Homo sapiens: one gene and its partners. The protein of the gene in region 1 interacts with the protein of each later gene in a biochemical or structural test. Each region holds a gene or a part of one and is shown in the gene's direction. Other genes may lie near its edges. The genes, in order: UBA6, UBE2O and UBE2G2.

The links.
Region 2: of the proteins of UBA6 (region 1) and UBE2O, one has a biochemical effect on the other in vitro, tested with the Homo sapiens proteins (one study listed by BioGRID).
Region 3: the proteins of UBA6 (region 1) and UBE2G2 form a complex in vitro, tested with the Homo sapiens proteins (2 studies listed by BioGRID, with this or other methods).

Annotation. Positions count from the first base shown.
Region 1 is NC_000004.12:67,626,433-67,636,734, reverse strand, and holds part of UBA6 (ubiquitin-like modifier-activating enzyme 6), read left to right. Parts: intron 1-1,176; coding exon 1,177-1,282; intron 1,283-2,216; coding exon 2,217-2,306; intron 2,307-2,412; coding exon 2,413-2,493; intron 2,494-3,261; coding exon 3,262-3,390; intron 3,391-4,826; coding exon 4,827-4,878; intron 4,879-4,963; coding exon 4,964-5,027; intron 5,028-6,199; coding exon 6,200-6,269; intron 6,270-7,592; coding exon 7,593-7,664; intron 7,665-10,257; coding exon 10,258-10,302. UniProt on the Homo sapiens protein: Activates ubiquitin by first adenylating its C-terminal glycine residue with ATP, and thereafter linking this residue to the side chain of a cysteine residue in E1, yielding a ubiquitin-E1 thioester and free AMP.
Region 2 is NC_000017.11:76,392,736-76,403,037, reverse strand, and holds part of UBE2O ((E3-independent) E2 ubiquitin-conjugating enzyme), read left to right. Parts: intron 1-338; coding exon 339-436; intron 437-910; coding exon 911-974; intron 975-1,883; coding exon 1,884-2,027; intron 2,028-2,487; coding exon 2,488-2,597; intron 2,598-2,740; coding exon 2,741-2,891; intron 2,892-3,116; coding exon 3,117-3,589; intron 3,590-4,046; coding exon 4,047-4,201; intron 4,202-4,453; coding exon 4,454-4,566; intron 4,567-4,654; coding exon 4,655-4,783; intron 4,784-5,146; coding exon of another isoform or gene 5,147-5,149; coding exon 5,150-5,239; intron 5,240-6,216; coding exon 6,217-6,910; intron 6,911-7,176; coding exon 7,177-7,313; intron 7,314-10,302. UniProt on the Homo sapiens protein: E2/E3 hybrid ubiquitin-protein ligase that displays both E2 and E3 ligase activities and mediates monoubiquitination of target proteins. Negatively regulates TRAF6-mediated NF-kappa-B activation independently of its E2 activity.
Region 3 is NC_000021.9:44,789,916-44,800,217, reverse strand, and holds part of UBE2G2 (ubiquitin-conjugating enzyme E2 G2), read left to right. Parts: intron 1-10,302. UniProt on the Homo sapiens protein: Accepts ubiquitin from the E1 complex and catalyzes its covalent attachment to other proteins. In vitro catalyzes 'Lys-48'-linked polyubiquitination. Involved in endoplasmic reticulum-associated degradation (ERAD).

The DNA of each region.
Region 1 (10,302 bases):
CCGAGATCACGCCACTGCACTCCAGCCTGGGCAACATTGAGCACTGAATGAAGGAGACTCTGTCTGCAATCCCAGCACTTCGGGAGGCCGAGGCTGGCAGATCACTCACTGTTAGGAGCTGGAGACCAGCCCGGCCAACACTGCAAAACCCCGTCTCCACCAAAAAAATATGAAAACCAGTCAGGCGTGGCGGTGCGCGCCTGCAATCGCAGGCACTAGGCAGGCTGAGGCAGGAGAATCAGGCAGGGAGGTTGCAGTGAGCTGAGATGGCAGCAGTACAGTCCAGCTTCGGCTCGGCATCAGAGGGAGACCATGGAAAGAGAGGGAGAGGGAGACCGTGGGGAGCGGGAGCAGGAGAGGGAGAGGGACCTAAATTTCTTTATCAAAACAGACTTTCTTTTCCCCCAAATTCTAAATTAAATCCTCCTATGGTGATTTTCATAACACTATGTACTTTTTCCTTCATGGCACTCATTTTTACTGATATGCATATTTATTTAATGTTTGTGTCCTCACTAAATCATTCATCCAGGGACCATTTACTTTCCGTCATTGTATCCTCAGTGCCCAACATATGATGTCATTTAGTAAATATTCCTTAAATAAGTAGATGAATGAATGACTATAAATGTGTTCACCTTACATCTTTATATGACTCCTCAATGTTAGGGTGTAGAGCAGATATATTAACAGGGGAGAATTTATCAGTTGAAAAATGTGAAAAGTATGTAATCTTGGGCCAAAGAGGGGAAGAAAATAAAACTTTAAAAAATAAAAATTTGTAGAATATAGGTATTGTAAGTGTTGAGAAAGAAGATTAATATTATTTGGGATAAAGAAAATATTGAGAAGAGATAGTGTGGTAGAACTTGTAGTTAGAAAATAACCAAAGAAGAAATATAAAGCAAGGGAAAAGGAGTAATATTGTTAGGAATTAACCTAGAGATAAAGGTTAAGAAAGCCCCAGATTTAGGGTACTACTAGATGTATATGTATATTGCAGAATAGGGGAACAGGAATGATCCACTGTTTGATAGTAGTATATCTGTTTTCCTAAAATACTGCATTCAAGAAGTGATCAGTATGTGAAATGGTCAATAGAAAGTTGTAGGTTGTCCTTTGGTTACATTGTTATTGCTCACTTTTTTGTTTTTTACTTGCTGTCTTTTCAAATAGTCGTTGCTTAGCAAATCTAAGGCCTCTTTTAGATTCTGGAACAATGGGCACTAAGGGACACACTGAAGTTATTGTACCGCATTTGACTGAGTCTTACAATAGTCATGTAAGTGAATCAATATTTTGAAATAGATGTCTTTTTTATATCTTGTAATTTTTGTCTTAATCAACAATTTGATTTAGCTTTCCTAATCCTTCTGATTTTGCTCTGCCAATGATGTTCATACATATGTGCATGTACATTTTTTAAAATATAATTGAACTTTTTTTTAATTATCAGAATTTTGTGTCTGGTGTTTCTGGAGCATTATTCTTCTGTTTACTATTTATTTCTCAGAGCTGCTTAGTTTTCTAATACCCTTTGAGTTTAAGATTGTTTGATAAGAACAAACTATTAGATTGAGACTAGAACTGTCAACAAAGACATAAAATTTTATTCACTTGCTGAGACAAAGTGAGTCATTTTAGATTAGGTAAACCAATAAACCTAGGCAAAATGTACTCTATAATAGAATGTGGATTTCTTCAATGGTACTTTATCCACAAAAAACGACTTAGGTATTTACCATTTATTTAATACATGCTTTCTGCAAGAAACCTCAAGCATTGAGGACATATTTCTGCTCCCAGATGTTTTTCTCCATGGAAAAACTCATGCTTTTCTGAGCACTATACTGGGTATTCCTGAATTACTTTTCAAAGCGGGGCAGTGTTATAAAACTTTAAATGTCACCTTGATTCATGAGGAAAAAAATGATTTATAGATGATGGTGTGTCATGAGTACTACATGGTGCTTTAAATGAGTACACAAATAATAAATAAGATTCATGTTTGGCATTACATAGCTATTAACAAATAGGTTAAATGTCAAAAGAATTAACTTCTCTTATTGCCTAAGAGAGAGAAGATATAAAAATGTCTGGTTGGATTTTATTTATTTTTGGATTTTTAATAGGCTTAAAGCTCAAAACTAGATTAAATCAATAAAAATTGGTCATTGCTTCCCCTTAAGTACCTGTTGTCATATTTTATAAATTAGCGGGATCCCCCAGAAGAGGAAATACCATTTTGTACTCTAAAATCCTTTCCAGCTGCTATTGAACATACCATACAGTGGGCAAGAGATAAGGTAAAAGTTCCTTTTTAAATTTATTTTCTTTGAAGTGAGAAAGAAGATATTTCTGACTTTAAACAGACTTCTATTTGTAATTTTTTTTTTCTTTTCTCTGTTACAGTTTGAAAGTTCCTTTTCCCACAAACCTTCATTGTTTAACAAATTTTGGCAAACCTATTCATCTGCAGAAGAAGTCTTACAGGTAAAAATCAGTAAATTTTAATACAAACTTAACACTTTGTGTCAGTGTAATCTTATTTTCAAGTCATCTACAAGTGATTTATTTTACCTCCATAAAGAGTGATTGTATATAAAAAATGAAATGATACATAAGGAATCTTGAAATTAGGTCACAAATTATCATTTTGGTTGTTTGAACTACATGGAATTGTCGATATTTGAGCATGTTCGACTCACAAAACAGCAATTCGTATGGTGCGAGCTAATAAAGATATGATAATTATGATAGAAGGGCTACAAATAATAAAAGGGCTTTTATTAAGCCCTTTGGAAAGAAAAAATTGAGGTAAGTTCTAGTTAAAATTTCATGAGGGAACAATAATCTCCAAGACTTATTACTCTTATAGTGAAGGCAACTTTAAAGATGTTTTCTCACTTTCTTTTAATCTTTTGCTAACAAGGCCCACTTTTTAGTATCAAATATTCATAGCACTTATAGTGAGTACATATATTATAGTACTAATAACTTACAGCTAGGAAAATATGAGGATAACTTGTAAGATAAGAAATCAGAGTTAAAATTTTGTATGCTATCTCTTACCATTCCCCTTCTCAAACAGAAAAGAAAAGAAAGGTTAAAGAAGAAGGAAGGGAAAAGGAGCTTGAGGTGAAAAAAGAAAAGCATAAAACACATGAGTTGACACTTCAAACTTAGGCTAACTTTTGGTGAGGGATGTGTATATGTTTGTAATTGGAAGTATGTTGATTTTTTTTTTCTCTCCCATTCTAGAAGATACAGAGTGGACACAGTTTAGAAGGCTGTTTTCAAGTTATAAAGTTACTTAGCAGAAGACCTAGAAATTGGTCCCAGTGTGTAGAATTAGCAAGATTAAAGTTTGAAAAATATTTTAACCATAAGGTAAGTATGCATTGTGAGACATTAAGAAAAGGTCTGATCTTGGCTTATTTAGTTATTAACAAATTAATTTCATTGACCTGAAATGTGTATTCTTTCTTTTGGCAAGCTTTTCAGAAATTAGTAGTAAGTTAAATGAGAACACATGCTAATCTAAAAGAAGTTTGTTCAGAATAGAAGAAGCAAGAAACTGAGAAAATAGGGACATTTAGTCAGAAATTTTGCTGAGATTTTGCCATTTCCACCCATATCTGATAATCACATTTTATGTCTGTTTCCCCATCTGTAAAATAGAAATAATAAATTTGTACCTAATACATAAGGTAGTGGTAAAGATAAAAGGAGGTAACACAAAGCATTTAGAACAGAGCCTGGCACATAAAAAATTACTAAATATTAGCTGTTATTCTTACCTCCAGTTAAATATAGTTGCTGGAATGTGTGTTGCCTTCTCTTTAGTCTTTCCCTCTCTTTAGGATCTTAAGTTCATCTTCCTTAGAAACAACTTTAAAAAAAAACAAAAAAACAGGGTTTCCCTATGTTTTCCAGTCTGGCCTGGAACTCCTGGGCTCAAGTGATCCCTGCCTCAGCCCTTAAGTAGCTGAGGCTGCATGTGCACGCCACCACACCCCACTTAAAAAATATTTCGTTTATACTTCTTCTTTTTACTTTCAACAGAGCTCTACTTCTTGGAAAAGTGGTCTGTACTACTCAATGTTACCACTTCTTTACCCAGTAAATTTGACTTCTTTGCTCATTACTCTTCAGATTGTTCTTAACATGGTTATCAATGACCCGTTTCAAAAATCTAAGGAACTCTTTAGTTCTTATCTTCTGTGCATTTTTTTTAAACTTTTTTTATAATGAAAAATATTCAGCCATAGAAATGTAGAGGAAATAGTATAATGAACCCTAATGTAATTGTCAATTACCTATCACCCAGGGTTAGCAGTTATCAATTCATAGATAAATCTTGTTTCATCACCATTCCCGTTCATTCTTACCTTCCCCCAGGTGATTTTGAAGCAAATCTCAAACATGTATCAATTTCAAAAATACAAAGTACTGTGTGTTTTTTCTGGTTTTGTTATTTAAGTACTAGCTCTTTAAAAAGAACAGAATGACATGTAAAATATGCCATTTATATAAAAAGGAGTGAAGTAATCTACATTTGTTTGCTGTAGATACCACCTCCCAATAAACCTACAAATAGTGATAGAAAATGATATTTGAATTTTTCATTTATGAGGGACATTGACAGGAGAATGGACAGATGGAATACAAGGGTGGTAGGGAGACTTCACTGTGTCTCTTTTAATGTGTTTTGATTTTTGAATCATGTGCATATATTTACTACACACATTTTTTAATTTTATTTTTTAATTTTTCCTCAGATAATATTAAGTAGTGGGTGTCTTTAATTCATTTTTTTTCTTTAGGCTCTTCAGCTTCTTCACTGTTTCCCTCTGGACATACGATTAAAAGATGGCAGTAAGTATAAATGTTGAGAATAAATTTTAATGACATTTATTACTGGCTACATACATTGAAAATGATATTTGTATCTTTTTGCCAGGTTTATTTTGGCAGTCACCAAAGAGGCCACCCTCTCCAATAAAATTTGATTTAAATGAGCCTTTGTAAGTATTTATATTTAGTTTTATGTATCCTTCATTATATATTTCTTTACTGTAAATTCCTTAACTGTACATTGCAGAGTGAAAACCTTAGGCTCTTTAATGTTAAATTATTTCATCCCTGTTCATTTAAGAGTTAACAAGTCATTCTGACCAAGAAAGCCAGCCACAACCCTTCCCACACAAATGTGAATCCATTCATTTACATGGTAAATAACCTCATTATTTATAATAAATATCTAAGGTGAAACCAAAATCACCTTTTTTACTTTATCCATAAATTAGTAAAATGACAATGTGTTTTTACATTTAATGAAATCAAATATAAGAATCTTCAGTTATATGGAGGAACAAATAATTACTACTGAATAACTCCCTAAATCTCAAATTATTTTCAGAGGAGTTGGTCTTTGTGTGAATACCTGGAAACACTATATTAGATACACATTAGATTCACACTTGTGTGTATATGTATATTTTTTCTATTTTTTTAATTTAGTTTTTATTCTTTGAAAGAGACAAGGTCTCACATATGTGGCCCAGCCTGGTCTTGAACTCCTAGGCTCAAGCAATCCTCGCACCTCAGCTTCCCAAGTAGCTGGGATTACAGGTGCATACCACCACACCCAACCTTATGTATATATATTTTTAAACACTTAGCTTGCATTCACTAACCTTCCTTTCAGCAGATAACTCTATGCTTAATTTTCTCATCTGGTGGTGGTTTTAGGCTTCCAGTCACCTTATGCTGGACTGCTTCTTCTATAAGACTTTCTTTTTTTGTTTTTAAATAAACACATTTACTTAGTTTGAACTTGATATATACTCATTAAGACCAAATGTATAATATTTCTTATGACTTAAAATGAATTATTGTTCACTGGTCTGAGTTTTCTGGTTCTGTCCACTCACTCCTCTTCCCAAGGTAGTCATGATCACTACCTGAATGTTAAGTGTTTTTGAGAATAACTGTTTGATGTTTTGTCTTTTATAACTTCTGTAGTGTTTTGGTGTAGACCAGAATATTTTTGTCTAACTTAAAAAAAAAAACTTGAAATAATAATTCTGTGGTTATATTTCTTCAAACTACATTTAAAGGCTATAGTTCATAATGAGTTAAATATCGTCTTTAAAACTGTACATTCAAATTTTGCTTTATTTTTTAATTTCAAAAGGCACCTCAGTTTCCTTCAGAATGCTGCAAAACTATATGCTACAGTATATTGTATTCCATTTGCAGAAGAGGTAAGATATTCTTTAAGCCTTAGCAAGTGATGCAAAACCAAATTAGAATTAGATGACTGATGCACTAATTGCATCAAAACATGTTTGTTTGTTATAAGAATCACTCTTTTTGATACAGAATTTTTATTGTATTTTTACCCATACTAACATAATGGAAGCTAAAAGCTCATTGCAGTATTGCTAAGTAGAAGTCGGATTTTTCCTTCTGAATTGAAGCAGTGAAACAGCATTATTTGTTAAAAGCAGTTAAACTTTGTTTTAAGAATATTTATAACCTGCTTAGCAGCTTCAGTTATCCTAGTTATTCTAAAAAGCCACAGCAAACCATTTCATCGCAATTTTGAAATACTGCGTAGAGATTTTCTTTGTTAACATTTGTTTGTTATTTTGTGATAATTTATGTGCTTTTCAGGAAATCTGAAAATGCTCCCTTATATTGACATTTCTTACTTTAGCATCATACTCATTCTCTTAAACATCATCTTCATTGACTAACATCTAAAGAGCCTCATACGGTTTTGAGAGGCATCTCTTTTCTTCACAAATGCATATTCTAGCTAAGTAAATTGCTGTACTTTTAGGTGGGCTAAATAGAGAAACATGAATCAGATCCCATAATTAACACTGGCTGTTTTGGATTCAGATAACAATATCTGTTTTAGATTAATCCTTTTTGGAATTCATACAAATAAACTGTAAATATTTGGTAAAAATAGTGGCATTCAGTCTGATATTCTTTTTGGGAAAATCAGTGGTAATTTAGTGGTGAGTGTGGTAATTGACCTCAAAAGCACTAAGTCTCAGCCTTTGCCAAGCAACTTCTCAATGACAAATGTAAATACAACCCATAGCTTTAAATTCATATAAGTTCATCTTTAACCATTTAAATATCTCCCTCCTTCTTAAGGTATGAATTCCATTTACTTATTTTACTTATTGAGTATAACTTACTTCAGGGAACTTTGTAAAACATTAAAAACATAAAACATAAAGCTAAGGGAATTAAAACTGACTGATCAAGTCACTCAGTTTTATATTTACAACCAGTCCTAAAAATGCCTTTTAAAAAATTTGCAGAAGGACTAAAATTTCAAGTTTGTTGACTAATAAGTACTTTTTTACCCCTTACCTTCTCCTCCCCCATAACCTTTATGGGGGGATATTTTTATAGAAATAAAGATAAATGTCTCAAATGGATGTCTACATATTCAGATAATGAAATATTCATATATTGTAATATGATTAAGGACCTTTTGTAGGATATTTTTAGCTTTAGAATTTAGAAGAATATGTTTGTTGGTAAAATTACTTTTTTAAAAACAGGACTTATCAGCAGATGCCCTCTTGAATATTCTTTCAGAAGTAAAGATTCAGGAATTCAAGCCTTCCAATAAGGTATGTTTAAAAAATCATTCATTCAGCAAATAGTTTGGGAATTTGGACTTGTACCAAGTCCCATTCTAAACCTGGAGAATATCACAATGAATGGTTCTTGCTCTTGCTCTTGTCAGTGCAACTTGAGTTTGAAGTAGATTTGTCAGAATCACAAACTGTTGATTAATACTAATTTTATTCTAGTGTGGAATTTTAAAAAAGATCAGTATAGACTTAGATTGTATGAGCTACTCAGTTAATATTTTTTTATGCCCACTATATCATTGTGGGTATTAAAAATTAGATATATTGGAGTTCTGTCAGTGAACAAGATACATAAAGATCCCCTGTTGTTATAGAGCTTACATGCCTTTGTGAGAAGATAGATAATAAAATACATACATGAATAACATAATAATACCTTCTGAAGGAATGTATAAAATACATTGGACCAATGTATTTTGGGCGGAGAGGGACTATAAACAAAAATGCTAATAAGTACATAATATTGCAGTGTGAGTGTAAGTGCTAAGAAGGAAAAATACAACAGGGAAAAGAAAGAGTGATGGAGCTGGTATAATTTTATATGGGATGGAAGTGAGGAAAACCTCTGATAACAGTAACATTTTAGCAGAAACCTGAAGGAAGTAAAGGAATAGTGAAAGAGCAATGTAGGCAGCAGAAATAAGTGCAGAGAAAGGCCTTGAAAAGCTTTTAAGGTCAGGACTCGTCTAGAAGAGAATATACAAGGGGAAGAGTCTTAAATGAGGAAATTACAGAGATAGTTGGGGCTATGATAAAGAAAGAATATTTTCTTAGTTGAAATAAGAAGCTAGCTTAGTAGCTCAGAGTGAAGGGGATAAGAAGATAAAGGAAGTAAGAGCAAAGAAAAGAAGGTATGAAATAATTGTCCAGTGAAGTGGAAGAGTCACTTAATTAAAAGATGTAGTAAAACGCAAGACAATACTGAAGATCCACTTAATGTTAATCTGCTTAATGTATCCTACTAAATGTGGCTGGAGAAAGGGTAATGATCTTTTCTCCAGCCAGAATTTAGCTGCTTGGGTGGTATTATACTGTATAATGGATGGAAAATTGGATATAACTAGGGTTGGGATTTTGCCAGGCAAATACATTGAAAAAAAAAAAAAAAAGCAATAGGGAGTATTGGTAAAGATGGAACATGAAATTTAGGCAATGTAAATAAAAAAGTTTGAAAACTTTTTTTTCTTTTTTACATGTTCAGTATATGCCTTTCTTGTATGTTCTCTAAAAATCATCCACAAAATTTAGCTATACCAGAAAAGGTGGAGTAATGACCACCTCCCTGCAAAATTCAAGAAAGAAGTGACGTGTGCAGTCTTTCGTTCTGCGTTTTTATTTTAGGAAAAAAAAAAAAGACTTGTAGGGCAGTTGATTTTGCCCAGGTAGATGGATTTGCAGAACACAATGTTTATGACTTATAGCCTATAAAGAATAAAAATAGGGTGAGGATAAACAGAAATCCCAAAGAAGGTTCCCAGCCCATGTTTCCAAGGGCAAAACTAGAGAGAAGCCAAGGAAAAATGCTTTAACTTTACTTTCCGTTATTGCTCTTGCTTCGGTATGTTTTCTGGCTTGCATTGCTTCTATCTGTGTTAAAGTCTGAGGGTAATAAATTCTCCTGAGCAATTTAACTACAGTTTTAACATGAACTGTGGGCTTTTTCACAACTCCCTAAAGGAGCTCACACCGAAGTTTCAGGTATGGTACTGCTGGTTACAGATGTCACAGCCAAAAATATCAACTAGCCATTCAGACAAACAAAAGTTTCTCCTTCCTGGACTCCTTAATATTTCTTAATTTTTTGTAATAATGTTTAATTTGTAAAACGATGATTTGAGTGTATTTTTAAATAAATATTACTTCATGATAATGAAGCTAATTTCTTGGTTTGAGAATATTAATTTCCGTGCCCTCAGGGAATATCTAATAAGTAATTTCTTAAGGTTAAATTACTTGTGGTATGTACTCCCTTAATCCTACCAAACTTTCTATATGAAAGAAGGCATATTCTTAAGGAAAAAACTTAACAGCAGTCAGTGAATATTTAAAGGATGGCCATATTATATATCTTATGGATTGCTTTAGTTTCCTTGATGTGAAGCAGCTCTGTACTAGTTAGAGCAAAGCAACATGCGTTTAAAGTAGATTTGTCAGAATCACAAAGTGTTGATTAATACTAATTTTATTCTAGTGTGGAATTTTTAAAAAGATCAGTATGGACTTAGATTGTATGAGCTACTCAGTAAATATTTTTTATGCCCACTGTATCATTGTGGGTATTAAAAATTAGATATATTGGAGTTCTGTCAGTGAACAAGATACATAAAGATCCCTGTTGTTATAGAGCTTACATGCCTGTGCGAGAAGATAGATAATAAAATACATACATGAATAACATAATAATACCTTCTAAAGGAACGTATAAAATACATTGGACCAATGATTAATAATCTGATCAAAATATATAGAGAAAATATTTTCTCTTTGTAATTTGATAAAACAGTTAAATGGTAACCAAACAGATGCAGGAAATGATAACATTAATAAAAATATATTCATATATTCAAAGGTTGTTCAAACAGATGAAACTGCAAGGAAACCAGACCATGTTCCT
Region 2 (10,302 bases), on another chromosome or scaffold:
CCACAGCCTACTTTGCCAGGTGTCCTGTGTCCATGGATGTCCCATGTCCATGGATGCCATCAGGCCTCTCTGCCCCTGCATCACCCACCCCGTTCCCTCCAGGCAGCCCCACCACCACCACCACTTCCTCCTCACTGGGAAGAGCAGCTGGGATGCAGCCTAGAACTTGTAGGGAGGGCCTGCTGCAGCAGCTGTTTAGGGCTAGTAGCCAACCGGTCCAGTCAGTGAGCTGTCTAGATCCTCCCCCATCCTGTCTTCGGTGGGGCATAGAGGAATCTGTGCCCTGGACATGAACGTTGTCTGCTGTGTCTCACTGCCCCTGCCTCCTTGGTCTGCAGCCCTTCATGTATGGGGACTACATTGCCTATGACTGCTGGCTGGGGAAGGTCTACGACTTGAAGAACCAGATCATCCTGAAGCTATCCAACGGCGCCAGGTAGAGTCTCACCACCAGAGAGCCATCGGCTTGGGAAGGATAGCCTCTTGGAAAGAGGGGAGGAGGAGGGTGTTTCCTCCTGGGGACAGTGATGACAGGTTTGATCAAGGGCAGTGACAGATGTTGCAGGCATCCAGGGCCTAACCCTGTACCGTTCTCCTTATCTGCCGTGGCCTATTTCTGTTGCTCAGTTTCTGATCTGTCCTGGCATGGGGAGAAACGTTTTCACTGAGGATATCTGCTAGAGGCTGATGCTTTACTTGAGGCACTGTGATGGTGCTGAGCAAGCACTCCAGTGGCACTTGGGGTCTTGTTCGTTGTGGGAGAGTTTCTTGTACTACCTCGGGCTGAGTTGATGGTAGAAGACGAATTGTGCTATTTAGGGCATGTGGGCGCATTGGCATCTCAGAATCGCAACTTTTTGGTACTCACTGTGTCCCCTGGTGGAGACCAAACCTCTGTTCTCTGTTTTAGGTGCTCCATGAACACGGAAGATGGCGCCAAGCTCTACGACGTCTGCCCGCACGTCAGCGACTCGGTAGTGTGCTCCATCCAGGCCAGCACCCTTCTCTGATTGCTCAGTCCTCTGGAAGGAGGACTTCGTAGCAAAGACCTGGACCCAGCTAAACAGAGCGGTTTCCTAGAAAAGGGGCGGGTGCGCGCCAGAGGGTCTAAAAGTTTGGGTATAGGCAGAAAGTATTAGAACTTTTTTTTTTTTTTTTTTTTTTGAGACAGAGTCTCACTGTCGCCCAGGCTGGAGTGCAACGGTGCGATCTCGGCTCACTGCAACCTCCACCTCCCGGGTTCAAGTGATTCTTTGGCCTCAGCCTCCCGAGTAGCTGGGATTACAGGCGTGTGCCACCACACCCGTCTAATTTTTGTATTTTTAGTGGAGATGAGGTTTCACCATGTTGGCCAGGCTGGTCTCGAACTCTTGACCTCGGGTGATCTGCCCACAGCCTCCCAAAGTGCTGGGATTACAGGCGTGAGCCACCGCGCCCGGCAGTATTAGAACTTTTATTTGCATTTTTGGTAGCTTTTTTTTCTCATCCTTTAAGGTTCCACTTTGTCTCTCTCAGTACAGGATGATGTGTTAGTTACAATAGTACATGGACACACACAGCAAACAAGTAGATATACAGGGGGTGCGTGAGCAAACAGGTTTCAGGACCACTGCTCTCTGGAGTCTTATTCCTCAGAGTATGAGCCCTTGACCAAGGAGCATGGAATGCATCACCTATGTTTGAACAAGGGCGCCAGATGACCTCTGCGGACCCAGGGTTTGGGAAGTGCTGATGTGGAGCCACAGGACTTGTTTTAGGGCGTGTGGGGCGTGTGTGTGAGTGGGCTTCTGCAGGTGGGCAGCCAGCGGGCACAGGCGTGGAGAGCATGGTCACCCATGGAGACACCGCTCACGGGGACTTTCCTTTGGCCCCACATCCCGCAGGGTCTCTTCTTCGATGATTCCTATGGCTTCTACCCAGGCCAGGTGCTCATTGGCCCTGCCAAGATCTTCTCCAGCGTCCAGTGGCTGTCAGGTGTCAAGCCCGTGCTCAGCACCAAGAGCAAGTTCCGAGTGGTGGTGGAAGAGGTGGGTCCGGGCCCAAGGGTAGGAGATGGAGTCCTTGACCTCCACACCCTGGAGCTGAGCTGCTGCCCCTTTCCTTCCTGCTCTTGAGGGTTGAGCCCCGCTCCTCAGCATCTGGACCCTGTTGATCTCAAAGGGCTTTGGGGATAAAGGGAACCCAGGCTCTGGTCATAGTGACCAAAAGACAGATGTGCCCCAGCCCAGCCTGTACAGGCTGAGCAAGGTGGGAGGGTGGCAAGTGGCAGTTCCAGTGGCCCCTGGCTGGTATGAGCAGTGACACTGGTCCTGGGCATTGGGTGGGGGCCGTGGTTACAGTTGGGGCCTGCTCTGATGTGTCTGTACTTGGTGCTGCACTAGGAAGATCAGTTTCCTGCTCTGGAGGTCAAGTGGGCTTTGGGCAGCTGGCTAAAGAGAGTGCTGTCAGAGCCTGCCCTGACTGGCGTGTCCCACCTGCCATCCCCAGGTGCAGGTTGTAGAGTTGAAAGTTACATGGATTACCAAGAGTTTCTGTCCAGGGGGCACGGACAGCGTCAGCCCCCCACCCTCTGTCATCACCCAGGAAAACCTAGGCAGGTAAGCATGCCCTTACTGCCAGCAACCCAGGGGCACGCGTGGGACAGGGCTCTGGGCCCTGGTCACATGCCTGGGGAGGCTTAAGAACACTGCTGGCCTCCCAGGAGTCCAGCCCAGCTCACCCCCACTTCTTCCCCAACCAGGGTGAAGCGTCTCGGATGCTTTGACCATGCTCAGCGGCAGCTTGGGGAGCGCTGTCTGTATGTCTTCCCAGCCAAGGTAGAGCCAGCCAAGATTGCCTGGGAATGTCCAGAAAAAAACTGCGCCCAGGGGGAGGGCTCTATGGCCAAGAAGGTATGTCCTTGGGGTTGGGGATTGGTGGGCATTTGAGGAACTGGCCTTGAGCCATTTCCATGGCCAAGAAGGACAGTCTGTGCTTTAGGCCTTGGGGGGCAGCCCTGATGACCCTTGCCGGCTACTCAGGTGTATACAGCTGTCATCCCCCCAGCCTGAGATGCCTAGGGCCAGGCCTGCCCAGGTGCACCTCACAGCCCTGTCCTCTCTGCTCCGCCCTTGCAGGTGAAGCGCCTGTTGAAGAAGCAGGTTGTGCGGATCATGTCATGCTCCCCAGACACCCAGTGTTCCCGGGACCATTCCATGGAAGACCCAGACAAGAAGGGGGAATCCAAAACCAAGAGCGAAGCGGAGTCTGCCAGCCCTGAGGAGACGCCCGATGGCTCTGCCAGTCCAGTGGAGATGCAGGACGAGGGTGCAGAGGAGCCCCACGAGGCAGGAGAGCAGCTGCCCCCATTCCTGCTAAAAGAAGGCAGAGATGACAGGCTGCACTCGGCAGAGCAGGACGCAGATGATGAGGCTGCTGATGACACGGACGACACCAGTTCGGTGACCTCCTCTGCCAGCTCCACCACTTCCTCCCAGAGCGGCAGCGGCACGAGTCGCAAAAAGAGCATCCCCTTGTCCATCAAGAACTTAAAGCGCAAACACAAGAGGAAGAAGAATAAAATCACTCGAGACTTCAAGCCAGGGGACAGGTAAACTCAGAGTTGTGCCCCTCCCCAATGGCGTCAGCGTGAAGCCAGGCAGAGTGCGCGTCCCCTCGGTGTGCGTGCCTGCGCTCGCACACACACCTCTGCATGCCTTGTAGTGGCTCCGGGGCTCCCACCCGAGACAACGTAGGTGCCTGGGGTAGGCCCTGGTGGAAAGCAGAGACTGAGGAGTGGTGCAGAGGGTGGGATGGTGGTGGCCTTAAGCTTGGCCTTCTGGAACCACATTTGCCTGAGCTCTCCCAAGTGGATCCTGTTCTCAGAGAATGCGTGGCCTTGGAACCCTGGGTGAGCTTCCTGTGCACCAGAGACTCATCCTGCCAACCTGGGATTCAGAGTTTCAGGTTACCAAGCCCACAGGGACAGGAAGGGACAGAAAGACTCTCTGCCCTTTCCGCGGAGGGGGTGGGGTTTGCATGGCCTGCTGACTGGCCTGCACCCGCAGGGTGGCAGTGGAGGTGGTGACCACGATGACCTCAGCCGACGTGATGTGGCAGGATGGCTCCGTGGAATGCAACATCCGCTCCAACGACCTCTTCCCTGTGCACCACCTGGACAACAACGAGTTCTGCCCTGGAGACTTCGTGGTAGATAAGCGAGGTAGTGCCAGCTCTGGAAGGGCAGCCAGCAGGGTGGTCGCCAATGAGGGCCCGGGTTGGGGCTTGTGGAGAATGGGCAGTGGATCTGGGGTCAGAGCTAAAATGAGGTCCAGAAGGGGACTGCCCTCATGAAGGGGTCTCACCACTTCCAAGACGGGGGAAGGTCAGGGTTCTGCACTCTGCACTGGCTTGAGATGTGGGCTCCTTAGCCGGGATCCCTTAGCTAGTCACTTCCCTTTCTCTGGTTCCCTAGTCCAGAGCTGTCCAGACCCTGCTGTCTACGGTGTGGTACAGTCTGGGGACCACATCGGCCGTACCTGCATGGTGAAGTGGTTCAAGCTGAGGCCGAGTGGGGACGACGTGGAGGTGTGTGCAGCCCCTACTGCTTGCTTCAGGTGGGCTCTGGGGTTGGGTGTAGGACCCCTAGCTCATGACAACCTGTCCTGTGCCACAGCTGATTGGAGAAGAGGAAGATGTGAGTGTTTACGACATTGCTGACCACCCTGACTTTAGGTTCCGTACAACTGACATCGTCATCCGCATCGGCAATACTGAGGATGGGGCTCCTCACAAGGAGGATGAGGTACGCCTTCAAATTCAAGTTCTGGATGGCTGCTCACTGCCCTGTGCACCAGCTGCAGTCCCTGATGCTGCCACCAGGTGGCTCTAGGAGACAAGACCTGAAAGTCCTCTGGGCTCAGTGTCCTCAGAAGGGCAGCTGCCCCAGAGTCAAGCTGCCGCTCAGCACTAGCAGCTGCAGAAGGACTTGTTTCCCTGCCTCCCTTCTGGGGTCAGGCTTCTTGAGCTGCCGCTGGTTACATTTACCAGAGGAGCTAAGTTCCTTGTCACAAGCCAGGTGGGCATGATGTCAGTCACTGCAGAGCACAGGAGGGGCTGGGGAGCTGGAGCTTGAGCTGGGCCCCCTGACTTTGTCCCCTTTGCCCAGCAGCCATCGGTGGGCCAGGTGGCCCGTGTGGACGTCAGCAGCAAGGTGGAGGTGGTGTGGGCTGACAACTCAAAGACCATCATCCTGCCCCAGGTGAGGCTCTGGCAAGACCCCCCTGCTGAGCTTGTGACTATGGCAACTTGGGCCGGGGGCCACAGGCGTGTAGCCAGAAGATGGGCTCTCAGGTCTTCCTGGTGAGATCTCAGCGAAAGCGTGAGGGGAAAGGCAGGCATTCCACACAGCCCTTGGTGCAGGCCTGCAGTTGGCCCACCAGCCTCGCTTCTCCCAGCAATCTCTTCACGTCCATCTCTGGGTGCATGTAGACTTTCACAAACCTCCAGGATTTTCCTGGATTGTCAGCTCACTATGCTACGAAGAATGCAAGTTCCCTCCTAAAAGGAGATGGAGACTTTCCTACCACCCTTTTTAGAAAGCTCTAACAGAGAAGGAGAGAAAGGAGAGAGCCGACCCAGTTCTAGCCCCACCTGCTGGGTCCTGAGCAGAAGGGCTACACGGGCTCTCCTTCCCTCGCCTCCTGGTTGGAGCCACACAGCCCAGCTCTCCTCTCCTGGTCCACACAGGGGGCAGGAGTGGGGGCGGGAATGGCTTGCCCCATCACCTTAACGGCCATTCCAGGGAACGCAGCAGGATATGTCGGCCCTTCTACATGTCCCCTCTTGTCATATGTTCCCAGCTCCCCACACAGGCCTCCTTGGCTGCATCATTAGCTGACCCTGCGCTTTTCAGGTGTGGGACTGGGCCTGCCAAGGTCCCCTAACGCCTTGGACAGATGCTGACGAAGTGCACAGAGCAGGAGGAGAGGCTGGAACAGACCACTGGCTGGGGCTTTGGGTCCAGCTGGAGGGTGGGACAGGTGAAGGGCCTCTCCCAGAGACCTAGGGACTGCAAAAGCCAGAGCAGAGGTCAGGGAAAGGGTGGAATGAGGTTGCCAAGGCCTCATGAGCCCAGTCGCCATCAGCTGTGCGGATCAGGGATCCCCAGAGCTCCTCCTTAGTGGTGGGGAGGTGACTTCCTGTCTGCTTACCCTGGCACTTCCCTTCTGCCCCCAGCACTTGTACAACATAGAGTCTGAGATTGAGGAGTCAGACTACGATTCGGTAGAAGGCAGCACCAGCGGGGCATCCTCGGATGAATGGGAAGATGATAGTGACAGCTGGGAGACGGACAATGGGCTGGTGGAGGACGAGCACCCCAAGATAGAGGAGCCCCCCATCCCACCCCTGGAGCAGCCGGTGGCCCCTGAGGACAAGGGAGTGGTGATCAGTGAAGAGGCAGCCACAGCTGCCGTCCAGGGGGCTGTGGCCATGGCTGCCCCCATGGCCGGGCTGATGGAGAAGGCTGGCAAGGACGGGCCACCCAAGAGCTTCCGGGAGTTGAAAGAGGCCATCAAGATCCTGGAGAGCCTCAAGAACATGACTGTGGAGCAGCTGCTGACGGGCTCGCCCACCTCTCCGACTGTGGAGCCTGAGAAGCCAACTCGGGAGAAGAAGTTTCTGGATGACATCAAGAAGCTACAGGAAAACCTCAAGAAGACCCTGGACAATGTGGCCATTGTAGAGGAGGAGAAGATGGAAGCAGTGCCCGACGTAGAGCGCAAGGAGGACAAGCCCGAGGGGCAGTCACCTGTGAAGGCTGAGTGGCCCAGCGAAACCCCGGTGCTGTGCCAGCAGTGTGGCGGCAAGCCTGGCGTCACCTTCACCAGCGCCAAGGGCGAGGTCTTCTCCGTACTGGAGTTTGCACCCTGTGAGTCAGCCCTTGCCTGGTCTTCGCCTTCCCCCGCCTTCTCGGGGCTCCTGTTTGTGTCACCAGATCTGGGTGCAGGGTGGTTAGTCCCCTCGCCAGACCCCAGCTACTGCCCCAGGGCAAACCATTTCCCTGTGTGGTCACAGTGCTGAGGCCAGCAGCGGCGAGTGGGAAGTCTGTGGGTGTGCTCACCTGTCCAGCCAGGTTGGCAGATGGAGCTCCAGGGCCTCTCCATGAGGGACTGACTATTCTCTTCCCCCCTCTAGCAAATCATTCTTTTAAGAAAATTGAGTTCCAGCCTCCAGAAGCCAAGAAGTTCTTCAGCACAGTGCGGAAGGAGATGGCGCTGCTGGCTACCTCACTGCCTGAGGGCATCATGGTCAAGACTTTTGAAGATAGAATGGCAAGTAGGCTTGGCATGGGCAGGTGCAGATGTGCTGTGTGGGCACCCAGTGCCCAAGAGGCCACCAACCTTGGGTCCCCAAACCTCCGGGGCTGACTGGCACCTGCGAGGACACTCACCCACCCACCTTTTACAGGGGCGGTCACAGGCTCAGTCAGGTGAGGGCTGACTCAGCCGTGTGTCCAGGCCAGATGGTTCTTTCTTTCCTCCCTCCTTTAAAAAATTACTTTCTCGGCCGGGCGCAGTGGCTCACACCCGTAATCCCAGCACTTTGGGAGGCCGAGGTGGGTGGATCACGAGGTCAGGAGATCGAGACCATCCTGGCTAACACAGTGAAACCCCGTCTCCACTAAAAAAAAAAAAAAAATTACAAAAAACTCTCCCGCCACCATGCGGGCGCCTGTAGTCCCAGCTACTCTGGAGGCTGAGGCAGGAGAATGGCGTGAACCTGGGAGGTGGAGCTTGCAGTGAGCCGAGATCACGCCACTGCACTCCAGCCTGGGTGACAGAGCGAGATTCTGTCTCAAAAAAAAAAATTACTTTGAAATAGGCCGGGTGCGGTGGCTCACGACTGTAATCCCAGCACTTCGGGAAGCCGAGGCAGGTGGATCACCTGAGGTCAGAAGTTTGAGACCAGCCTGACCAACCCGGTGAAACCCTGTCTCTACTAAAAATACAAAAATTAGCCGGATGTGGTGGCGGGTGCCAGTAATCCCAGCTACTCGGGAGACTGAGGCAGGAGAATCACTTGAACCTGGGAGGCAGAGGTTGTAGTGAGCCAAGATCGCACCATTGCACTCCAGCCTGGGCAACAGAGCGAGACTTCATCTCAAAAAAAAAAAAATTACTTTGAAATTAATTATATTATGATTACTCCTCAAGCCTACTTTTCTTTTTGAAAAATTAGAACATTACAGATCCTTTGAGTGGAAATGGAAGAGCTAAAGTTGCCTTTGACCAGACCTCACTTCCCTTTCTCCCCGAATCATAGGCCTCTTCCCACACCCAGAGGATTGTTGGAAGTTTAGTGGGTCTCCTTCCAAACGGATGACCTTTTTTTTATACTTTTACATTATTTATACACTAAAAAAATATTTTTACATTTTCATGTATCACCATAAGTACATAATATTTTGTATGATTTGTTTACACACAGAATATGTCGTCGTACACATCATCTCTAATTTGCTTAAGACCAACCTGTGTTGATTCATAATGATCTAGTTTCTTCCTTTTTACCTGCAAAATAGGATGACAGCATGTGGCCACACCACATTCCATTTTCCCACTCCTCTGTTCGTGGACGGGGCCTAGTGTCTCTGAGTCATGTTTACTGAGGCAGCGCTGAGTGCATCCTTCCGGAACAGGCAAGCCCGTTTGCCTGCCACCTTGTTGACTCCGCAGTCCCTTACTGGGCCTGTGCATCGAGCCAAGCACTATGCTAGACTCTGAATCTGAGTCTGAGGCCCCAGTTCTGGCCCTGTCCTGGAAGGAAGGGAGTAAGAAAAGAAAGAGCAGGGATCCTGAGAGCAGCCAAGCGATCCTGAGAGCAGCCAAGCGGGATGCTGTTGAGATGGGCCCGGAGTAGCCACAACCCTGGAACAGGGCTAGGCAGAGTCCTAAGGCCCAGTGCTGCTTGAGATTCTTAATAACGCTTTTGGTTTTTTCTTGGGTTGTAGGAAAATTCCTTTTGAAAATTCTAGCCTGTCTCAGCTCTGCTGAGGGAAGATGGAAACAGTATTTTTTGTTTTGTTCTGTTTTCCCCACATCTCACTCAGGAGAAGAAAAGTAGTGCATTCCCTGGAGGCTCCCAGGGTGGCACCGATAAGAGCATGTGCAGAGGTTCCCTCGCCCCAGCTAGCGCTCTGCCTTCCCTGCTTCTCAGCTCATCACTGACCTCGCCCATTGCCCTGTCAGTTGAGATCCCACACACACGCGTGTGTGCACAGATGCACGCAAATAGATGCACAGATTCCAGATGTCTGTGGAGCGGTGGTCTCCCAACCTCCCCCATGGAGTTCAAACCCTCACTGTCAGCTTCTGGTTGTGAGACCATCCCCCCTTCCCCAGGCCTCACCAGCCTGGAACTGCCTTTCAGCTTGAAACTGCTTGTACTACTTGCCTTGTTGGGGATAAGGGTTGGAGCAGGTGTTTAGAGGAATTGTTTTGTTTTGTTTTTAAAAGACAGGGTTGGCCGGGCGTGGTGGCTCACGCCTGTAATCCCAGCACTTTGGGAGGCCAAGGTGGGCGGATCACAAGGTCAGGAGTTCGAGACCAGCCTGACCAACATGGTGAAACCCCGTCTCTATTAAAATACAAAAAATTAGCCGGGCGTGAGGAGACTGAAGCAGAGAATCGCTTGAACCTGGGAGGCAGAGGTTGCAGTGAGCCAAGATCACACCACTGCACTCCAGCCTGGGGACAGAGCTATACTCCATCTCAAAAAAACACATAAGCCAAAAAATAAAAGACAGGGTCTCACTCTGTCGCCCAGGCTGGAGTGCAGTGGTGTGATCATAGCTCACTGCAGCCTCAGCCTCCTGGAGTCAAGTGATCCTCCCATCTAAGCTTTTTGAGTAGCTGGGACTGTAGGTATGCACCACCATGCCCAGCTAATTTTTTATTTTTTGTAGAGATAGGGTCCCACTATGTTGCCCAGGTTGGTTTTGACCTCCTGGCCTCAAGCAGTCCTCCCACCTTGGCCTCCCAAAAGTGCTGGGATTACAGGTGTGAGCCATCACGTCTGGCTGAGGAATACAATCTTTTTTTTTTTTTGAGATAGCGTCGCACTGTCACCCAGGCTAGAGTTCAATGGCACAATCTCGGCTCACTGCAACCTCCGCCTCCGGGTTGAAGCAATTCTCCCACCTCAGCCTCCCGAGTAGCTGGGACTGCAGGCATGCATCACCACGCCTGGCTAATTTTTGTATTTTTAGTAGAGACGGGGTTTCACCACGTTGGCCAGACTGCTCTTGAACTCCTGACCTTA
Region 3 (10,302 bases), on another chromosome or scaffold:
GCAGATCTTGCATTTTTTACAAGTTTACAAGTTTTTTACAAGCAACCCTGCATGGAAGCAAGTCTGTTGGCACCATTTTTGCTCGCTTCGTGTCTCTCTCTTACATTTTAATCTATTACTGTGATCTATGATCAGTAATCTTTGATGTTACTATTGTAATTATTTTGGGGCATCACAAACTATGCCCATAAAAGATGGTAGTCCTAATAAATGTTGTGTGTGCTTCACTGACTGGCTGTTTCCCCATCTCTCTCCCGGCCTCTCTCTTCCCTGAGACAAAACAACATTGAAATTAGGCCAATAGTAACTGTACAGTGGGCTCAAGTGTTGAAGTGAAGAGTTGCACTCTACCCACTTCAAATCAAAAGCTAGAAATGATTAAGTTTAGTGAGGAAGGAATGTTGAAAGTCAAGATAGGCTGAAAGCTGGGTCTCTTGTTAGCCAAGTTGTGAATGCAAAGGAAAAGTTCTTAAAGGAAATTAGAAGTGCTGCTCTGTTGAACACAATGAATGATAAAGTGAAAAAGCCTTACTGCTGATATGGAGAAAGTTTTAGTGGTTTGGATAGAAGATCAAACCAGCCATAACATTCCTTTAAGCCAAAGCCTAATCCAGAGCAAGGTCCTAACTCTTCAGTTTTATGAAGGCTGAGAGCAGTGAGGAAGCTGCAGAAGAAAAATTGGGAGCTAACAGAGGTTGGTTCATGAGATTGAAGTAAATAACCTGTCTCCATAACAGAAAAGCACAAGGTGAAGCAGCAAGGTCTCCAGAAGATCTAGCTAAGATCAAGATGAAAGTGGCTCCTAAATTAAGCAATAGATTTACAAGGTACGTAAAATAGCCTTATACGGTATTGGGAGGAGATGATGCCATATACAACGTAAACAGCTAGAGAGAAGTCAATGACTGGCTTCAAAGGACAGGGCGACTCTTGTTAGGGGCTAATGTCGGTCACTTTAAGTTGACTGAGTTGAAGCCAGTTCTCATTTATCATTCAGAAAATCTTAGGGCCCTTAAAAATTATGCTAAATCTACTCTGAGCTCTAGAGATGGAAAAACAACCTGGATGACAGCACATCTGTGTACAGCATGGTTTACTGAATATAAGCCCACTGTTGAGACCTACTGCTCAGAAAAAAAGATTATCTTCAAAATACTATTCCTGACAGTGCACCTGGTCACTCAAGAGCTCTGATGGAGAGGTATAAGGAGATAAATGTTTTTGTGCCTGCTAACACAACACCAATTCTGCAGCCCATGGATCCGGGAGCACTTTTGACTTATTTAAGAAATACATTTCATAAGGCCATAGCTGCCATGAAAAGTGATTTCTTTGATGGATCTGGGCAAAGAAAATCAAAAGTCTTCTGGAAAGGATTTATCATTCTAGATGGCATTAAGAACATCTGTGATTCATGGGAGGTCACCATATCAACAACAGGCGTTTGAAAAAGTTGATTTCAATGCTCATGGATGACTTTAAGGGGAGGAAGCAACTGCAGGTGTGGTAGAAATGGCAAGGGAACTGGAATTAGAGGTGGAGCCTGAAGATGTCACTCAGTTGCTACAATCTCATGATCAAACTTGAACAGATGGGGAGTTGAGTCTTACAGATGAGCAAAGAAGTGATTCTTGAGATGGAATCTACTCCTGGTGAAAATGCTGTGAACATTGTTGAAATGACAAAAGATTGAGACTATTCCATAAATTTAGTTGATAAAGCAGCCGCAGGGTTTGAGGGTATTGACTCCAGTTTTGACTGAAGTTCCACTGTGGGTAAAGTGCTGTCAAACAACATCACAGACTACAGAGCAATCTTTTGTGAAAGTAAGAGTCAGTCCCTGTGGCAAACTTAATTGTTGTCTTATTTTCAGAAACTACCACAGCCACTCCTGCCTTCAGCAACTACCACCCTGATCAGTCAGCAGTCATCAATATCCGGGCAAGACTGCACCGGCAAAAAGATTATGACCTGCTGAAGGCTCATATGATTGTTAGCATTTTTTAGCAATAAAAATTAAGCATATTTTGGCAAATAATAATTATTTATTTATTTATTTTTTGAGACAGGGTCTTGCTCTGTCACCCAGGTTGGAGTGCAGTGGCACAACCACAGCTCATTGCAAGCCTTGACCTGGGCTCAAGCTATCCTTTCACTTAATCCACCTGAGTAGCTGAGACTACAGGCATGTGCCCCTACACCTGGCTGATTTTTCTGTCTTCATCTTGACCTCCCTCTATGTTGTCAGGGTTTGGCGAAAGTGACTCCATTTTGATTCTGACAATGTTCATACTCGAACAGAGGGTTGGATGTGGGGGACTATTACTTCTGTGTCCTCATGGGAAACCTGGCTGGTGGGTCAGATGTGTGAACACCTACCATTTCTTGGTATCCTGGTTTGTGTTTGTGTCTCTGTTTTAGTTTTATTTTAGCCCTATTTCTAGGGTTAGGCTAGACTGTGAGCAGGTATTTTCTCTTTTTTTTTTTTTTTTTTTTTTTTTTTGAGACGGAGTTTTGCTCTGTCGCCCAGGCTGGAGTGCAGTGGCGCAATCTTGACTCACTGCAGGCTCCGCCTCCCGGGTTCATGCCATTCTCCTGCCTCAGCCTCCCGTGTAGCTGGGACTACAGGCGCGCGCCACCATGCCCGGCTAATTTTTGTATTGTTAGTAGAGACGGGGTTTCACCGTGTTAGCCAGGATGGTCTCGATCTCCTGACCTCGTGATCCGCCAGCCTCGGCCTCCCAAAGTGCTGGGATTACAGGCGTGAGCCACCACGCCCGGCCTTCTCATTTTTATTGAGAAGAAAATCATTAAACCCCTGCATAGGAAATTAAGTTCAGGCTGCTGCTTCAGGCCAGTCTTTGCATTGTTGAACTTGCATTTTCTAAGGATATTTGCATTAGCAAAGATATGTTCTCCCTTTTATTGTCCTGACAGAAGCTTCATCTGTTATTTCAATTATATTGTCAATTAGTTTGCAGTAATAAGACCTAAATAATGGTTGATTTCCGAAGGTTTGTCACGGAAGTGTGTTGTGTGTTTTTACATGTTAACATGAAATTTTGGACTATGTGTAGAAGGTAGAACTCTAAACATACCTCACTAAGATTCCCATGCCCTTGTTATTCAAGCACTTTCTAGTACTTCGGTGGAGGGACTTTGGAGATGCAAGTCAGGTTAGTAATCAGCAGACCTAAAGAGTGGGAGATTATTCTGGATTACCGTGAAGGATCCAATAATAACATAAGGCTCAAAAGCAGTCAGTGAAGGCAGGATGGGGGTGGTCAGAGAGATTCAACATATGACAAGATCTCTACCTTCTGTGGCTGGCTGTGAAGATGGAAGAAGGAGCCATGACCTAAGGAAGGCGGGCAGCCTCAAGAAGCTGAGAATGATCCCAGACCAACAGACCCGTGGAAGTGAATTCTGTCAGCAACCTCAATGAACTTGGAGTGGCAGCCCTGGTGAGACTCTGAGCAGAGAACTAGCTGGCCCATGCTGTGTCCAGACTTCTGACGCTTGGAAACTCTGAGATCATCAATGAGTATTGTTTTAAATCACTAAATTTGTGGTAATTTGTTACAGCAGTGACAGAAGATGAATACAGTGTGTTATTGAGGGGACTTTGTTTTTCCTGTATCTTAATAATGTGATAAAATTTAGTGGGTTTTTTTTGTGTATCATTTACTGGTTTTTTTTGTGTGTGTATCTTAACATCTAGTTTGTCCTCATAACGTATTTTAAGGTAGCACATTCCAGTGTAAAGGTGGACTTGACAGAATCAATCTCTACATAGAAGGGGTTTAGATAAATTTGGTTAGATGTTCATGCACACTTTATTGTATTTGGGAGTAGTCATATAACTGCAGAAATTCAGAGGTGGTGGGACCTTGGCTATGATTCTGTTCAAGCCCCCTAATTTTACAGATTTTATGGAATTGAGCAACAGACAAGATGATTTTGCCTAGGTTCATAAACAGGAAAAAAGGAGAGCCAGGAAAGAACTCAATTGTTGTAAACTGCTGTCTTGTCTTGATGTTCTGTCTTCATTCATCATCCAGCCTTTCCTAGGAGTGTCAGAGATAGACCCAGGTAGAAGTGGGCTGCCCATGGGGGGCTTAGCACAACAGAAATTTATTCTTTTACTGTTCTGGAGGCCAGACATCTAAAATAAAGGTGTTGATGGGGTCATTCTTCCTCTTGAGGGCTCGAGGGGAGAACCCTTACTTGCCTCTTCCAGCTAATGGTGATTGTTGGTCATCCTTGGCGTTTATTGTCATTCTCTTGCTTGAGGTAGTGTAATTCTAATCTCTGCCTCCATCTTCGCATGGCCATCTTCCCCCTGTGTGCATGTCCTAAATGTACATGTCTTTCTGTGGATATATGCTTTTATTTCTCCTGTGTAAATAACCAGGGTTATAATGGGAAGTGTGTGTTTAATTTTTAAAGAAACGGCCAGTTTTCCTCTAGTTCACATTTCCCTAGCAGTGTATTAAGTGTTCCCGTTGCCCCACCTCCTTGCTGACACTTCGCGTGGCCAGTTGTTTTTTGTTTTCTTTTTTCTTTCTTTCTTTCTTTTTTTTTTTGAGACAGGTTCTCACTCTGTCACTCGGGCTAGAGTGCAGTGGTGTAGTCATGGCTCATGGCAGCCTCTGCCTCCTAGGCTCAAGCAATCCTGCCACCTCAGCCTCCCAAGAAGCTGGGATTACAGTTGCATGCCACCTCGCTTAGCTAATTTTTGTATTTTTAGTAGAGATAGGGTTTCGCCATGTTGCCCAGGCTTGTCTCGAACTCGTGGGCCCAAGCAATCTGCCCGTCTTGGCCTTCCAAAGTGTTGGAATTACAACTGCGAGCCACTGCGCCCTTCCAGTTTTAAAAATTTTAGCCATTCTATTGGGTGTATAGCAGTCTTACTGAGGTTTTGTTTTATTTATTTATTTTTTTTTATTTTTTATTTTTGAGGTGCTCTCTCTGTCATCCAGGCTGGAGTGCAGTGGCATGATCTCAGCTCACTGCAACATCTGCCTCCTGGCTTCAAGTAATTCTCCTGCCTCAGCTTCCCAAGTAGCTGGGGCTATAGGCGCGTGCCACCACACCTGGCTAATTTTTGTATTTTTAGTAGAAACGGGATTTCACTATGTTGGCTAGGCTGGTCTCTAACTCCTGACCTCAGGAGTTTGCCTCGCCTCCCAAAGTGCTGGGATTTACGGGCATGAGCCACAGCCCCCGGCCCTTACTGAGGTTTTCATTTGCATTTCCATAAGACTCGTGATGTTGAGCATCATTTCACGTGTTTATTTGCCATCCATATGTCTTTTTAGATAAAGTGACTTGAGTCTTTGCTTCTTTCAAAATTGTGTTGATTTTCTTAAGTTTTAGTTCTTTGGCTGGGCGCAGTGGCTCACGCCTGTAATCCCAGCACTTTGTGGGCTGAGGTGGGCGGATCACGAGGTCAGGAGATGGAGACCATCCGGGCTAACACGGTGAAACCCCCTCTCTACTAAAAATACAAAAAATTAGCTGGGCATGGTGGCGGACCCCTGTAGTCCCAGCTACTCAGGAGGCTGAGGCAGGAGAATGGCGTGAACTTGGGAGGTGGAGCTTGCAGTGAGCCGAGATCACGCCACTGCACTCCAGCCTGGGTGACAGAGCGAGACTCCGTCTCAAAAAAAAAAAAAAACAAAAAAAGAAGGGTTTTTATTATTTCGATGAAATTCAATTATTGACTTTTAAAATATTTCTTGCTATTGTGTTATATTTAAGAAATAACTGCCAAACATCAGGTGGCAGTAGGATTTTCTCCTATGATTTCTTCTAGATGTTTTATAGTTTCAGCTCTTGTATTTAGGTTTGGGATCCATATCAAAGTTTTCCATATGGTATGAGATAAAGGCCAAGGTTTATTTGTAAATTATTTGTAAATGGCAGTGCAGTTGTTTCAGCACTGTGTTTGCTAGGGCTGCTCTACCACACAGGCTGGGCACGGCTTAAACAACAGAAATGTATTTCCTCATAGTCCTGGAGGCTGGAAGTCCAAGATCAAGGATAGGGCAGGGCTGGTTTCTTCTGAGGCTCTGTCCTCTATGCCTGTGTCCTCATCTCTTCTTAAAAGGATATTAGTCAGATTGGATTAAGGTCCACCCTAATGACCACATTAATTTTAATTACCTCTTAAAGGCCCTAGTCACACACTTTTCTCCACCTTCTTTTTTTTCATGTAATATGTCCTGAAGTTTGTTCTGTACTAGCATGTAGAGGTATTTATAGCTGCAAAGTACCCCACTGGTATATGTATCATAATTTGACTGGTCCTCTGTTGATAGACACTCAAGTTCTTTTTAATTTCTTTTTGTTTTTACAAATAGTCCTGAAATGAATAGCCTGTGTATACATTTTTTATCTTCACCAATGTTATCTGTGGGATGGATTCCTAGAAATGGAATTGCTGGGTCAAAGGTTATATTTCACTTTGTGTGGTAGCTATTTGTTAAGCCACTATTTTAAGTGGCAAGGAATGGCCTCTGAAAATTTCCCTGATACCAAGATTCGTCTCTTTTTTTGAACTTGTTTCTTATCAGTAAACATGAAACTGTATATTATTTTGTGTACGCGTGTATATGCTTTGGAAGCAAAAAACAAAATGGAAAAAATAAGTGCCCTGAACCATTCCCTCCAGCCTCTGAACTCATTTGCTGCACTTCTTTATTGACCAGTAGAGGCCACTGTTGAATAACAAAGCTGGCGGGAAGGCCAGCGCACACCCGGGCAGGTCTCTGTGCTGAGCCTGCATTGCCAGGAGCAGGTCTGGAGCTGCAGTTTTTAGACCACCCTTTCCCCTCCCTAAGGGAGGGTGTCACGCAGGGGAGTGCCAAAGGGGAACTCCAGATGAAGAATAAAGCCAGCTCTCTTTGGTACGAGCTCTTCTTCATGGTCCCACGAAGGTGATTTGTAAAGCTTTTGTGTGTTCTGCTGCCAGGCCTCTACTTAGTTGCCCACTGACATTGTGTTTCTCCCGCACCCCACCTGCTTAGCAGTTTACAGTCTATCTGCCGTAATCTGTTATTTTTTTCTTATAATTAGGCGGTTTGGCTTGAGACACAAGAATGGGACTAGATTTTAGATGACTGGGTGTAGGAAGCCTAGCAAATTAGGTTCTGTGGTTATTTCTCCTGATCTACTCCACATGAAGAGACACAAAGGGAGAACATCAGGGTGTGGCTTGTGAAATCCAAGGTCTTAGTCGGCTTGGTACTTGACCTCATTCACATTCAGTTCCCACCCACCCCTGAAATGTTTAATGCACTTGGCCCTTGGGGCCAGCACTTGCCTTTGGCCTGCCTTGCTGGCCCCTCCTTGCCACTCTGCCTTCTCTCACTGCTGGGTGTCAGCACACCCTTGTGACAGCACTTAGGTCTCTTCAGGACCTCTGTTTCCTGGATCAGGGCTTCTCAGCAGGTGTTAGTGGTATTTTGAGTGAAATAATTTTTCCTTGGGTAGGCCTTGTTCTACCCAAGGTTGTGGGTTCATTAAACGGTTAATCGGTACATTAGTCCGTTCTTATACTGCCATAAAGATACTACCTGAGACTGGGTAATTATAAAGGAAAGAGGTTTAGTTGACTCACAGTTCTGCATAACTGACGAGGCCTCAGGAAACTTATAGTCATGGCAGAAAGGGAAACAGACCTCTTCTCAAGGCGGTAGGAGAGAGAAGAGCAAGCCAAGGAAGAACTTGCCACACACTTATAGAACCATCATGTCTCCTGAGAACTCGCTATCACGAGAACAGCATGAGGGAAACTGCCCCCATGATCCAGTCACCTCCTACCAGGTTCCTCGCTCAACACTTTGGGGATTACAAGTCAAGGTGAGATTCGGGTAGGGACACAAAGCCAAACCATGTCATTTCTCCCCCTACCCCTCCCAAATCTCATGTTCCTTTCAAAACCATTCCATTTCAAAACAAATCATGCCTTCCCAGCAAGGCCCCCAAAGTCTTAACTCATTTCGTCATTAACTCAAAAGTCCAAGTCCAAAGTCTCATCTCTGACAAGGTAAGTCCCCTCTGCCTAGCAGCCTGTAAAATCAAAAGCAAGTTAGTTACTTTCAAGATACAATGGAAATACAGGCATTGGATAAATACTCCCATTACCAATGGAAGAAATTGGCCAAAACAAAGGGCTACAGGCCCCCATGCAAGTCCGAAATCCGGCTGGGCAGTCATTAAATCTTAAAGCTCAAAATGGTCTCCTTTGTGACCCCGTGTCTCACATCCAGGGCACACTGATACAGGGAGTGGCTTTCATGGTCTTGGGCAGCTCTGCCCCTGTGGCTTTGTAGGGTACAGCCCTCCCACACCCACCCCCTTCAGCTACTTTCATGGTGGGCATTGAGTGTCTTTGGCTTTTCTAGGTGCACAGTGCAAAGCTCTTGGTGGATCTACCGTTCTGGGGTCTGGAGGATGGTTGTTCTCTTCTCACAGCTCCACTAGGCAGTGCCCCAGTGGGGACTCTGGGAGCTCCAACCCCACATTTCCCTTCTGCAATGCCCTAGCAGATGTTCTCCATGAGGGCCCTGCCCCTGCAGCAGATTTCTGTCTGGACATCCAGGCGTTTCCCTACATCCTCTGAAATGTAGGTGAAGGTTCCCAAACGTCAGTTATTGAATTCTTTGCACCCACAGGCCCAACACCACGTGGAAGCTGCCAAGGCTTGGGGTTTGTACTCTCTGAAGCAACAGCCTGAGCTGTACCTTGGCCCTTTTTAGCCATGGCTGGAGCTGGAACAGCTGGGACACAGGGCACCAAGTACCAAGGCTGCACAGAGTAGCAGCGGGGCTGGGCCTGGCCCACAAAACCATTTTTCCCTCCTAGGCCTCCCTGCTTGTGATGGGAGGGGCTGCTGCCAAGATCTCTGACATGCTCTGGAGACATTTACCCCATTGTCTTGGCGATTAATATTTGGCTCCTTGTTACTTATTTGAATTTCTCTCCAGAAAATGGGTTTTTCTTTTTTATTGCACCGTCATGCTGCGAAGTTTTCAAACTTTTATTCCCTGCTTTCTTTTAAACACGAGTTCCAATTTCAGATCATCTCTCTCAAGTTCAAAGTTCCACAGATCTCTAGGGCAGGGGCAAAATCTCACCATTCTCTTTGTTGAAACATAGCAAGGGTGACCATTGCTCCAGTTCCCAAGAAGTTCCTCTTCTCTTTTTCAGACCACCTCAGCCTGGGCTTCATTGTCCATGTCACTATCAGCATTTTGGTCAAAAGCATTCAGCAAGTCTCTAGGAAGTTCCAGACTTTCCCACATCTTCCTTCTTCTAAGCCCTTCAAACTGTTCCAACCTCTGCCTACTACCCAGTTCTGAAGTTGCTTCCACATTTTCAGGTTATCTTTATAGCAGTACCCCTGGTACCAATTTACTGTATTCATCTGTTTTCACACTCCTATAAGAACTTCCCTGAGACTGGATAATTTATAAAGGAAAGAGGTTTAATTGACTCACAGTTCCACATGGCTAGGGAGGCCTCAGGAAACTTATCATGACAGAAGCCGAAGGGGAAGCAAGCACCTTCTTCACAAGGTGGCAAGAAAGAAGAGTGAAGGAGGAACTTTCGAACACTTATAAAACCACCAGATCTCATGAGAACTCACTGTCATGAGAACAGCATGGAGGAAATTGCCCCCATGATCCAGTCACCTTCCACTAGGTTCCTCCCTCAACACCTGGAGATTACAATTCAAGATGAAATTTGTGTGGGGACACAAAGCCAAACCATATCAATGGACATTTGGGTTGTTTCCAGTTTGGGGCTATTACGAATTTAGCTACTATGAACATTCACACAAAAGTCTATGGCAACATAAGACCCAGTAGAATTGCTGGGTCTTAGAGTCAATATATATGTAATTTTAGTGGAAATGGTCAAACTTCTTTCCCAAAGGGTAACCAAACCATTTTGCATTCCCATCAGTGGTGCATGAGAGATCTACTTGCTAAACTTGCCAGCACTTTAAGTCTTTAATTTTGGCCATTCTTTTGTGACTAAAGATACTGATAATGCTGAAGCTATTGAGCTGTATCTTATTGTGGTTTTAATTTGCATTACCCTTATGATTCACAATGTTGAGCATTTTCTCATGTGCTTATTAGCCATCTGTTTTAGTCAGTTCAGGCTGCTGTAAAAAAATACCAAAGACCAGGGAGCTTAAACAACAAACATTTATTGCTCCCAATTCTGGAGGCTGGGAAGTCTGGTGAGGGCTGTCTTCCTGGTTTGCAGATGACTGTCTTCTCCTTG